Linked DNA regions of Homo sapiens. The protein of the gene in region 3 purifies or fractionates together with the protein of the main gene of each other region. This does not show direct contact. Each region holds a gene or a part of one and is shown on either strand. Other genes may lie near its edges. The genes, in order: PPP3CC, PRIM2 and AMMECR1.

Evidence for each region.
Region 1: the proteins of AMMECR1 (region 3) and PPP3CC purify together in Homo sapiens (affinity purification with mass spectrometry; one large-scale study listed by BioGRID and IntAct). This does not show direct contact.
Region 2: the proteins of AMMECR1 (region 3) and PRIM2 purify together in Homo sapiens (affinity purification with mass spectrometry; one large-scale study listed by BioGRID and IntAct). This does not show direct contact.

What each region holds. Positions count from the first base shown.
Region 1 is NC_000008.11:22,472,037-22,475,697, forward strand, and holds part of PPP3CC (serine/threonine-protein phosphatase 2B catalytic subunit gamma isoform), read left to right. Parts: intron 1-2,917; coding exon 2,918-3,115; intron 3,116-3,463; coding exon 3,464-3,588; intron 3,589-3,661. UniProt on the Homo sapiens protein: Calcium-dependent, calmodulin-stimulated protein phosphatase which plays an essential role in the transduction of intracellular Ca(2+)-mediated signals. Dephosphorylates and activates transcription factor NFATC1.
Region 2 is NC_000006.12:57,642,473-57,644,993, reverse strand, and holds part of PRIM2 (DNA primase large subunit), read right to left. Parts: intron 1-2,521. UniProt on the Homo sapiens protein: Regulatory subunit of the DNA primase complex and component of the DNA polymerase alpha complex (also known as the alpha DNA polymerase-primase complex) which play an essential role in the initiation of DNA synthesis.
Region 3 is NC_000023.11:110,307,979-110,311,639, forward strand, and holds part of AMMECR1 (nuclear protein AMMECR1), read right to left. Parts: intron 1-3,661.

The DNA.
Region 1 (3,661 bases), on a different chromosome or scaffold from region 3:
AGAGGATCATTTGAGCCAGGAGGTTGAAGGTGCAGTGAGCCATGGTAGTGCCATTGCACTCCCATCTGGGCAATAAAGCGAGATCCTATCTCAAAAACAAATTTTTTTTCTTTAATAATATATTAAACTTAGCTTACTGTTAAGTTTTTACTTTATAAATGTTTCAGTTTTTAAAAACTTTTGGACTTTTTTGTAATAACACCTAGCTTAAAAGACAAGTACATTGTATAGCTATAGAAAATAATTTTTCTTTATATCTTTATAGGCTTTTTCTATTTAAAAAGTTTAAATTTTTTTTTAACTTTTAGAATATTTTGGTAAAAATGAACACACACACACACACACACACACACACACACACACACACACACTGAGCCTAGGTCTACACAGGGTCAGGATCATGAATATCCCTGGCTTGCCCCCCTACATCTTTATCCACTGGCACACCTTCAGGAGCAGTAACAGGCATGGAGCTGTTATCTCCTAGGATAACAATACCTTCTTCTGGAAGTCCTCCTGAAGGACCTGCCTGAGGCTCTTGAGGAGATGTCACTCTTTTCAGAAATTTGCCCATGGTGTTTTGCTTGGTTTATTTCTATTTTTCATTGTAGATTTGTTTGTAAGCAGTTAATGCAGCATGAACATTCCTGTGTATTAATGAAAACCTTTCTGTTTTTGGGGGTCCATGTTTTCACACTTCCTAAGGAGTTTGTTGAGGTGTGCAAAAGCTTCTCCCAAACCCTTCACTGTGAGTTTTGTTGGGGGTTCTTTTTCTTTCTCCAGCAAACTTCCTTCTCTCTTGCTGCTTCTTCAGCTTTGCATTCCTATTCCAGTTCCCACTCATTAGTCAATTCCTGCGATGTTATTGTGGCTATAACGTTACTAGATGACAGGAGTTTTTCAGCTCCATTTAACTACAGTCCATTGTTGACCAAAACATCATTTTGTGGCACACAACTGTATTTAGCTATTTTAGTGGTTGGGTAGCTGCTATCGTTTTTTCAGTGAAATTTGAGTAGTTAAAATGAGTCAAGTAGTAGCTGAAAGCATGACGAAACTTATAATAGGACTTTCTTTACTTGTAAATGATACAATATGGTATGGCTAGATTAAGTCTTTTAAAAATACTCATAGATTTCAACTTGGTTCCATAAAGCTGGAAGTGGAAACATTGGACATATATCAGAAATTCAATTGAACGCCTCCTTTTAAATTTATGGTTTACAGACTTGTGGCTCTTAGATCCCAGGGGATCTAAAGTAGACTGTGTTATAAAGTAGGCACATAACAAGACAACAGCCAATTTAAAAATATTAAATGAACTTGCTAATTCTCCATGATATTATATATATAAACTTTGTACCTAATGTAAACTGAAGGTAGTTATTAGCATTTCCAGGTTAGAAAACATAACTGGACTTCCCTTATCCACTTTTTTTTTTTTTGAAACGGAGTCTTGCTCTGTCGCCCAGGCTGAAGTGCAGTGTCACAATCTCGGCTCACTGCAACCTCCATCTCCCAGATTCAAGCAATTCTTCTGCCTCAGCCTCCCAGGTAGCTGGGATTACAGGTGTGTGCCATCACACCCGGCTAATTTTTGTATTTTTAGTAAAGACAGGGTTTCACCATGTTGGCCAGGCTGGTTTTGAACTCCCGACCTCAGGTGATCCACCTACCTTGGCCTCCCAAGGTGCTGGGATTACAAGCGTGAGCCACACCACACCCGGCCCCTTATCCATTCTTTTATGCTCTGTTACTACAGCAAATTATTCTCAGACATAGCTCCATCTTGGTAGTAGTGTTCTTGTTATTATCAGTAACAAAGTACATTAAGCTACTGCCTTTTGTTTTATTCTGTTTTGTTTTGTTTTATTTTGAGACAGTGTCTTGCTCTGTTGCCCAGGCTGGAGTTCAGTGGCGCGATCTCAGCTCACTGCAACCTCTGCCTCCCACGTTCAAGCGATTCTTCTGCCTCAGCTTCCCGAGTAGCTGGGATTATGGGCACTTGTCACTACACCTGGCTAATTTTTGTATTTTTAGTAGAGGTGGAGTTTTGCCATGTTGCCCAGGCTGGTCTTGAACTCCTGACCTCAAGTGATCTGCCTGCCTCAGCCTCCCAAAGTGCTGGGATTACAGGCGTGAGCCATGGTGCCCGGCCGAGACTTCTAAAACATAGGTGTCATTAGGACAGTTCTATAGGAGAAATAAATGCCATTTTAGTATTATGACTACTTTTCTTTCATTTTCTTTAACCATAGTTTCATTTTTAACACCTGTTCTATAGATAGAAAAACAAAGATACTCATGTCATCTAGTGTCTTGTCTCATTTATAACTTGTTCCCTGAATCAGCTTCAAGTCTTTCATGTTTATGTGTAAAACATAGGGCTGGGCGCAGTGGCTCACTCCTGTAATCCCAGCACTTTGGGAGGCCGAGGCAGGTGGATCACCTGAGGTCAGGAGTTCGAGAGCAGGCTGGCCAACATGGTGAAACCCTGTGTCTACTAAAAATGCAAAAATTAGCCAGGTGTGGTGGCATGCTTCTGTAATCCCAGCTACTCAGAAGGCTGAGACAGAAGAATCGCTTGAACTCAGGAGGCGGAGGTTGCAGTGAGCTGAGATCGTGTCACTGCATTCCAGCCTGGGTTGACAGAGCAAGCCTCCATCTCAAAAAAACAAACAACAAAAACCATTATAATTTATGCACACACAAATATTTAAAATGACTGTCACCTTTTTATACTTAGAATTGATCATTTATGATACATAGTATCTTAGAATTTTTTCCCCACGTACTGGTGCTGTGGATGTGAAATCATGGTGATTTATTAGGTTTAATTTGTCATGTAAAAGAATTGTGTTCTGTTTGTTCTCTATACATTTAAATATTTTAAATTATTATTATTATTTTTTTGTAGCTGTCCCCTTTCCTCCAACCCAACGGCTTACTTTCAAGGAAGTATTTGAGAATGGGAAACCTAAAGTTGATGTTTTAAAAAACCATTTGGTAAAGGAAGGACGACTGGAAGAGGAAGTAGCCTTAAAGATAATCAATGATGGGGCTGCCATCCTGAGGCAAGAGAAGACTATGATAGAAGTAGATGCTCCAATCACAGGTATAAAAAGTCTTTGCATGATACTTTTTTACAGTATAGATTTGCATGAGCAGTTTTGAGAAATAATTACAAATAACCAGCTAAAAAGTGGTGTGGTAATTTTTCTAGAAATTATGAGACAGTCAGGATTGGTTAGGATATTTGTTGTTAATTGAAGAAATACAATTTTAAGTGTCTCATATTTCCAGTAGAACTATTTAGTATGAGTAGATTGACTACAGTTTTACAGCAGTCCTGTCAAAAGCTGGAGTGATTTAAGTTAGAAGTTAAACTGTGATCCCTTTTGGTGTAATGCCCTTCGTCTTCTAAGGTATAATTTCTCACATCACTTTATGCTTTTTTTCCTAGTATGTGGTGATATTCATGGACAATTCTTTGACCTAATGAAGTTATTTGAAGTTGGAGGATCACCTAGTAACACACGCTACCTCTTTCTGGGTGACTATGTGGACAGAGGCTATTTCAGTATAGAGGTAAAAATTAAACTGGATATGTTGGGACTATTATATTGTCTTTCAAAAAAGATGATTTCCATTCTTCAGTAGA
Region 2 (2,521 bases), on a different chromosome or scaffold from region 3:
ATACAAACATGCCTGGTTCATAACTTATGTTATTTTTTCTCAAATACTATCATTAAACTTTAATTTTGAGTATCATTTCAAATTATGCACTCTAGTAATCTCTCCTTATATTCAGTTTCACTTTCCACAGTCTCAAATCCCTGCCTTCTCGCCTTCTGCAGTTGGAGTTGACAACAAAAATATCATTTTGCTTGAGTGAGTGACTGTTGGTTTCTTGGGTGGTATTTTCATTTATCAAGTTTTTGGAAACTGAGAAGTTATTCCATTTCTTTTGTTCATCTGTCTTGTATTAACTAATCCTTTTACGTCTCACTCTTCGTACTGAAGTGACTTGCACACTGTAGGTATCTAATAAATATTTGGTGAAGTGAACCCAGAAATAGTGTATACCAGTGATAATTTTGCATATTTAATTAAAGCCTTACTATATAAAAGACTGTGTTATAAACTATTCACTATTCAGCATACAGGAATACATTTGACTAACTCAAATTTCCAACCCAGTAAGTCATATACTTAAAAACCTCTACCAAGAATGGAGAACTGATGAGGGTCACAGATAAAGGCCTATTACACTCCACAGTAGAGAGAAATTTCGGCTGAGGAGATCAAGGAAGGCTTTGTAAGAGGAGTGCTATTTGAGTTGCGTCTGGAAAGATGGAGAGGGTGAAAAGCTGGGATGATGAGGGGAAAGGCAATATTTGCAGCAGGACCACATGAGCAAGGTAAAGAGGGAATGTCCTGGGAAAGCAAATATTAAATAGTTCACATAGCCTACTATGAAAGGCACATACAAGGAAACAATAAGGAATGAGGTTGGAAAGACAGGCAGGGGCCAGCCTGAGAGAGCCTTGAAAATCAGGGTAAGTGGTCAAGACCTAATTCTCTAGGCAACACAGAGTCACCAAAAACCCTTAAAAAGAGACGTGGTGTGATTAAAGCTATGTATAATCTTTTAGTAGATTAAAATGAATTGGCCAGGGAAAAAGGGGTTGCTGCCATGGTCTAGAATGAACCCTACTGGTGGACGGACCAGCAGACAGAAACATGAGTCTTTTCTGGTAATACTTATCTAAGCACCCTAGGAATCTCTGATTCTCTTTTGCTAGTTGTTAATACATGTTAGGCTAATTTTATAGTAATTCCAGTGTGTAACAGATGGATAGTATACAGACTGATTTTAAGAGTTATAGATCATTAAGAACAAATTTTTATCTTTGCTTCATTTTTTTAACTTAGCTGCTTGATTTCAAAATGTTTCTGAAATGTTTTATAATTTTTATTAACAATGGAATCATTTGTGAACTTTTTTATTACATTCAATTTTCACCCAATTCATTAAAAACTGGGAAATCCAATATAAATTTTGCATTTTGCAATGTGTTTCACAAAAAGTATGTTTATTGTCTAATACATTTTAATCAGAAGGCTTTACAGTTTGTAAAATAGTTTGTAAACAGAGAATCAGAGATTAGAAAGACCTTGGGGAATCCATTAAATTCAATCTCCTCCATGTACAGAGGCCTAAGGAGAATAGATGGTTTATTCAAGGTCATAGAATTAGTAACTGGTTTTGTCTGAATTAAAATTCAGGCCTTCTGACTAGATCATTAGTTGCTCTGAAATCTGTTTTAAGAGATTGTATGCAAAATCATACTGATAATGATATCTCCATTATAAATTTTATTTCTAGAGATAAACTTGGCTACAAAGATTAGAAAAACATAGTTGTACTATTTCATGCAAAAATAACCTAGTATCTTATGCTATAATAATATCTTGGCATTTTCTATACCTCGCTTCAAGTTGTCAGTTAGCAATACATTTATTAGACTTCAATGTGCACAAAATAGGGTAATCTTTTTAAAGTCTGATTTTCTCCATCTATGAAATGGAGATAACAGTGTTAGGTCATAGGGTTGCCATGGGAAAAGTAAATAAAAATGAATGTTAAAAAAAATTGTTCTATGAAATCTAAATAAAATGTTTTTAAAGAGTCAAGAAAAGCAAGTCACTTAAAAAAAAGGTGAAAGTCACAGAAGGAGAGGGAGAAAGATCCTATTGCTTTGCATATATCAAGTTCCTTTTCTACTTTAAGGAATCCAAACTGGAAATTGCTGATGCTGTATTATGGGTATAGTTTATAAAAGAAAGATAAAATCAAATTCCAAACACTAAACGATACTCAAAAGACCCTGCCCTAACTAATAAATGGCATTTAAATGACTTAACTTTAAGATATAATATTTAAGGGGCTGGGCGTGGTGGCTCACGCCTGTAATCCCAGCACTTTGGGAGGCCGAGACGGGCGGATCACGAGGTCAGGAGATTGAGACCATCCTGGCTAACACGGTGAAACCCCGTCTCTACTAAAAATACAAAAATTAGCCGGGCATGGTGGCGCGTGCCTGTAGTCCCAGCTACACGGGAGGCTGAGGCAGGAGAATGGCGTGAACCCGGGAGGCGGAGCTTGCAGTGAGTCGAGATCGCGCCACTGCACTCCAGCCTGGGCGACAGAGCG
Region 3 (3,661 bases):
CCTGCCTCAGCCTCCCAAGTAGCTGGGACTACAGGCGCATGCCATCATGCTCAGCTAAGTTTTTCAAATATATAATTTGTAGAGATGGGGGTCTCACTATGTTGTCTAGGCTGGTCTAGAACTCCTGGGTTCAAGCAATCCTCCTGCCTCAGCCTCTCAAAGTGTTGGGATTACAGGCGTGAGCCATGGCACCTAGCCAGAATAATTATTTTTTAACAAGAATGCTGTGGCCATTGATTCTAAAGGAGGGACATCTAAGTTTTTATGATGTAAAACATAAAAAGCACTCCTGCTCCAGATCAGGTGCTCAATCTCCCTTTTCTGCCCTGAATCCATGCTTCACTTAACTTGAATACAATTCATTTTACTCCCTCCCTGATTCCTATATGCCCTCTGTCCCTGCCTCGAACCACATGTGACTCTCTTTCTCCACACAGCCAATGCCTACAATGTGGGAGAGTCAATTCCCACAAAAATTGCCAGACAGGACAATAGTTGGAGGAGTTTGTGGAGTAAAGTATACCACAAACCACATATCACCCACCTCATTAGTGTCGGAAAAATAGAATATTATTCCTTTTTGTTCTTGTGAGGGTTTTTTGAATGGACAAGTAGAAGAGTGTGGGGGTAGATGGATCTGTGAACTCAAAAAAAATTTTAACTACTGACTTTCTCTGTACCTACTCCTAACATCAAAGAGCTATTCCACAAAATCAAGTACCCAGCCAAGCTAGTGGCAAGTTTTTTATTGGCTTGTTTTGTTTTAATGCAAAAGAAGCTGTGGCAAGTTTTTTTTTTAATTTGTTTTTGTCATTATCATAGGGAAACTCATGAATTGTGTTGAGAACACATGAATTGTGTTGAGAATACCTACTCTAACATGGAAAAAAGGCAAAGACTTCATGAGATTCTTCTTTATTGAATAAATCACCAATGCCATCTTCTACTTACCATATAAAAAAGGAGGTAAAAAAGCACCCGTCAATCTAAACACTTCACTTTTGTTCAAAATCAGCACAAAGTGTTTGCCTTGCTACAATGAATTATGTACTGAGGCCCAAGTTTTACCAGCTATATAATTTATTTGCACCCCAAACCACCTAAACCTAACCGTGTGGTTGCTAGGCTACTATAAGCGATAATGATATCACAGAAAAGAAACACACTAATGTAACTAGTACATAAGCATTTATTTGAGGCAGATACAGTGCTGTGGGACCCCTAGGCTAACAGCATCAAAACCAATTTTTCAGAGACTCCATTCCATAGGAATTACTCAAAGATCCACTAACACCTGAAGCAAAGCAGAGAATCTGTTACCACCTTGCAGCAATCCAAGATCTCACTAGAAAATATGTTACTAAAGTTGTATGTAATATGCTTACAGATCACAGTGAAAGTATATCGAATGGCAAGGTGAACTATATAGGCTCTTAATTCAATCTCACTACTTTCTATTACTAGAGAACTGGTCAGCATCTTCTGGCAGGATACTGCATAAAACAGTCAACTGTGCTCTCCCGGCACTGCATGTGGCTTTGGGTAACAATGTGGATTATCTGTAAAATGAAACAGATAGGGAAAAGGCAAGAATCATCAAGACTATCACAGACTTTATTGAAAAAAACTAGTATTAGTAGGTCTTTACTCAAGCAGAACTTTTCACTTTTGCCCATCCACTGAAGATCGCAAAGATCCTAAAGCAATATGGCTGATCCCATCAGTTCATAACATCCATCCTTCATCATTGAGCAAAGCCACAAAACAGATCCAGCTTGATTCAATCTATTTTACTTTCTAAGCTTTAGGACACACAACCTAGAATCTTGTACCAAAGGCACTTCTAGTCCTTCAAAAATTTCCCTTTAGTTCTGAAATTATGAATTCCTGAGATGGCCTGCCACGAGGCTTTATCTTGCTCAAGGCTGTACTATGATATACACATAAGGAAATAAAAGGATCACTGCCTGCTTTACAAATTGATAAGCCTGAAGACTAAGAAAATGTAAAAACCTACATTAAAGAAACCCAAAATTCTGCCAGGTATTTTTACTAGCAGTACAAAGCTGAAAACTATCACTGATATCTACTTATCTGAGCCATTCAAAGTCACAAAGTGGGGGAGTGATCCCAAGGGGCCAACTAAAACATCACAATAGCTCTGTTGCTGCTCTGTGGTTCTGGTAATTCAAAAAGAAATAACATTTGATAACTGCCAACACTTGGAACTACACATAGTAAGAAATCTGATTTCACCTGCCCAACCATTTGTTTCTTCCCATATTCCCCCCATGTTTTTTAATGGCACCACCATCCTCATGGTTCCCCAGGCTTATGAACTCTGAATCATGTTCAAAGCCTCTCTTCTTTTACTTCTGCCAAGCAACCAGAATTTGTTTTTTTTTTTCCTGCAGTGCCTCTCCATGCACATGTAGTCACCTAATCACAGGTCCTCATCCAAAAGCTATTCCAGCTATCTTTATATTTGATACAAATTCTATAAACCGATGTGTCCTCTCATCCTTTCTCCCAAATTAGATACAGCTGGGAATAGGTGAAGAGGGAAAGGGGAGGAGAGTTCTTATGCCTGTGATCAAATTTCATAGCCATTTCAACAGAGCTGTTTAACAAACTTTTTCTGAGCACAAGAATAGCTAGGCACAGAGCCAAGAAAAGAAGAGGCAATGATGGAAGCCAAAAACAGGTGAGCTACAATCTTTCCACTCCTACACAAAACCTGGCCCTAGAGTATGAACCCTTGCATATGCTGATAACTTCTTCCAATTCTCAATTTTGCAACATTCCTATATTCACAAACTCTGCCCCTGGGGTGGCTTTCCCACTTTCCAATGCCAGTTTTCCTACTGCCCTCATAACCTTAAGCCTAGTTAGTCTCCCCTATCTTGAGACTCTTCTCCCAATTCATCTGATACTCTAGAGGACTCTTCTGCAAATCCTGTTCTCTTCCTAATACAAGAAACTATAAGCAGATACAAGATCTCTTATCCAGCCTCCCCAGAGGATTCTCAACACAAAGGCCACTTTTAATTTCCTTGAAGTTTTATGATCTTAGAGACCAGAGCAAGGGGAGTGATATGAAGAATGCTGAGAGTGCAAGTTGCTGACTGAAGACAGCTGCTGGGAATCCCCAAGTACTGTGGCAAGGGGTGTGGTGGTGACAGCAACGGGTTTAAGAACAACCAAGTAAGACTTCAAGATCTACTGGTCAAACAGACTCTACCAATAATTTCTGTACCTCCTCCATTTCAAAACTTGGTTCCAGTTATTCCCTCCCTATAGCCTTCTCCCTGACCACTCCTTTATTCCATGTCATTTCCATGTGTATGCATTTTATGTGTATTTTATTAATCTACAATCATGTATATATTGCTTTGTAAGTATTTCAAGCAACTTTGATAATAGTATCATATCTTGAACAGGACTGTAAGCTCTGTGAGGATAGGACTATTCCTTCTATTTTTCTGGTTTCCAACCATGAAACTCAGGATAATGTATATTTTTTACAAAAACAGGGTTTTTTTTTCCAATGACATATAATTTCCACTCAGCTATTCAACACTAACATTTTTAACTTTGAGCAAGTTTCAATGTCTGAAACATTAAGAGCTGTAGAAAATACACCCACACTTGATACAAAAGA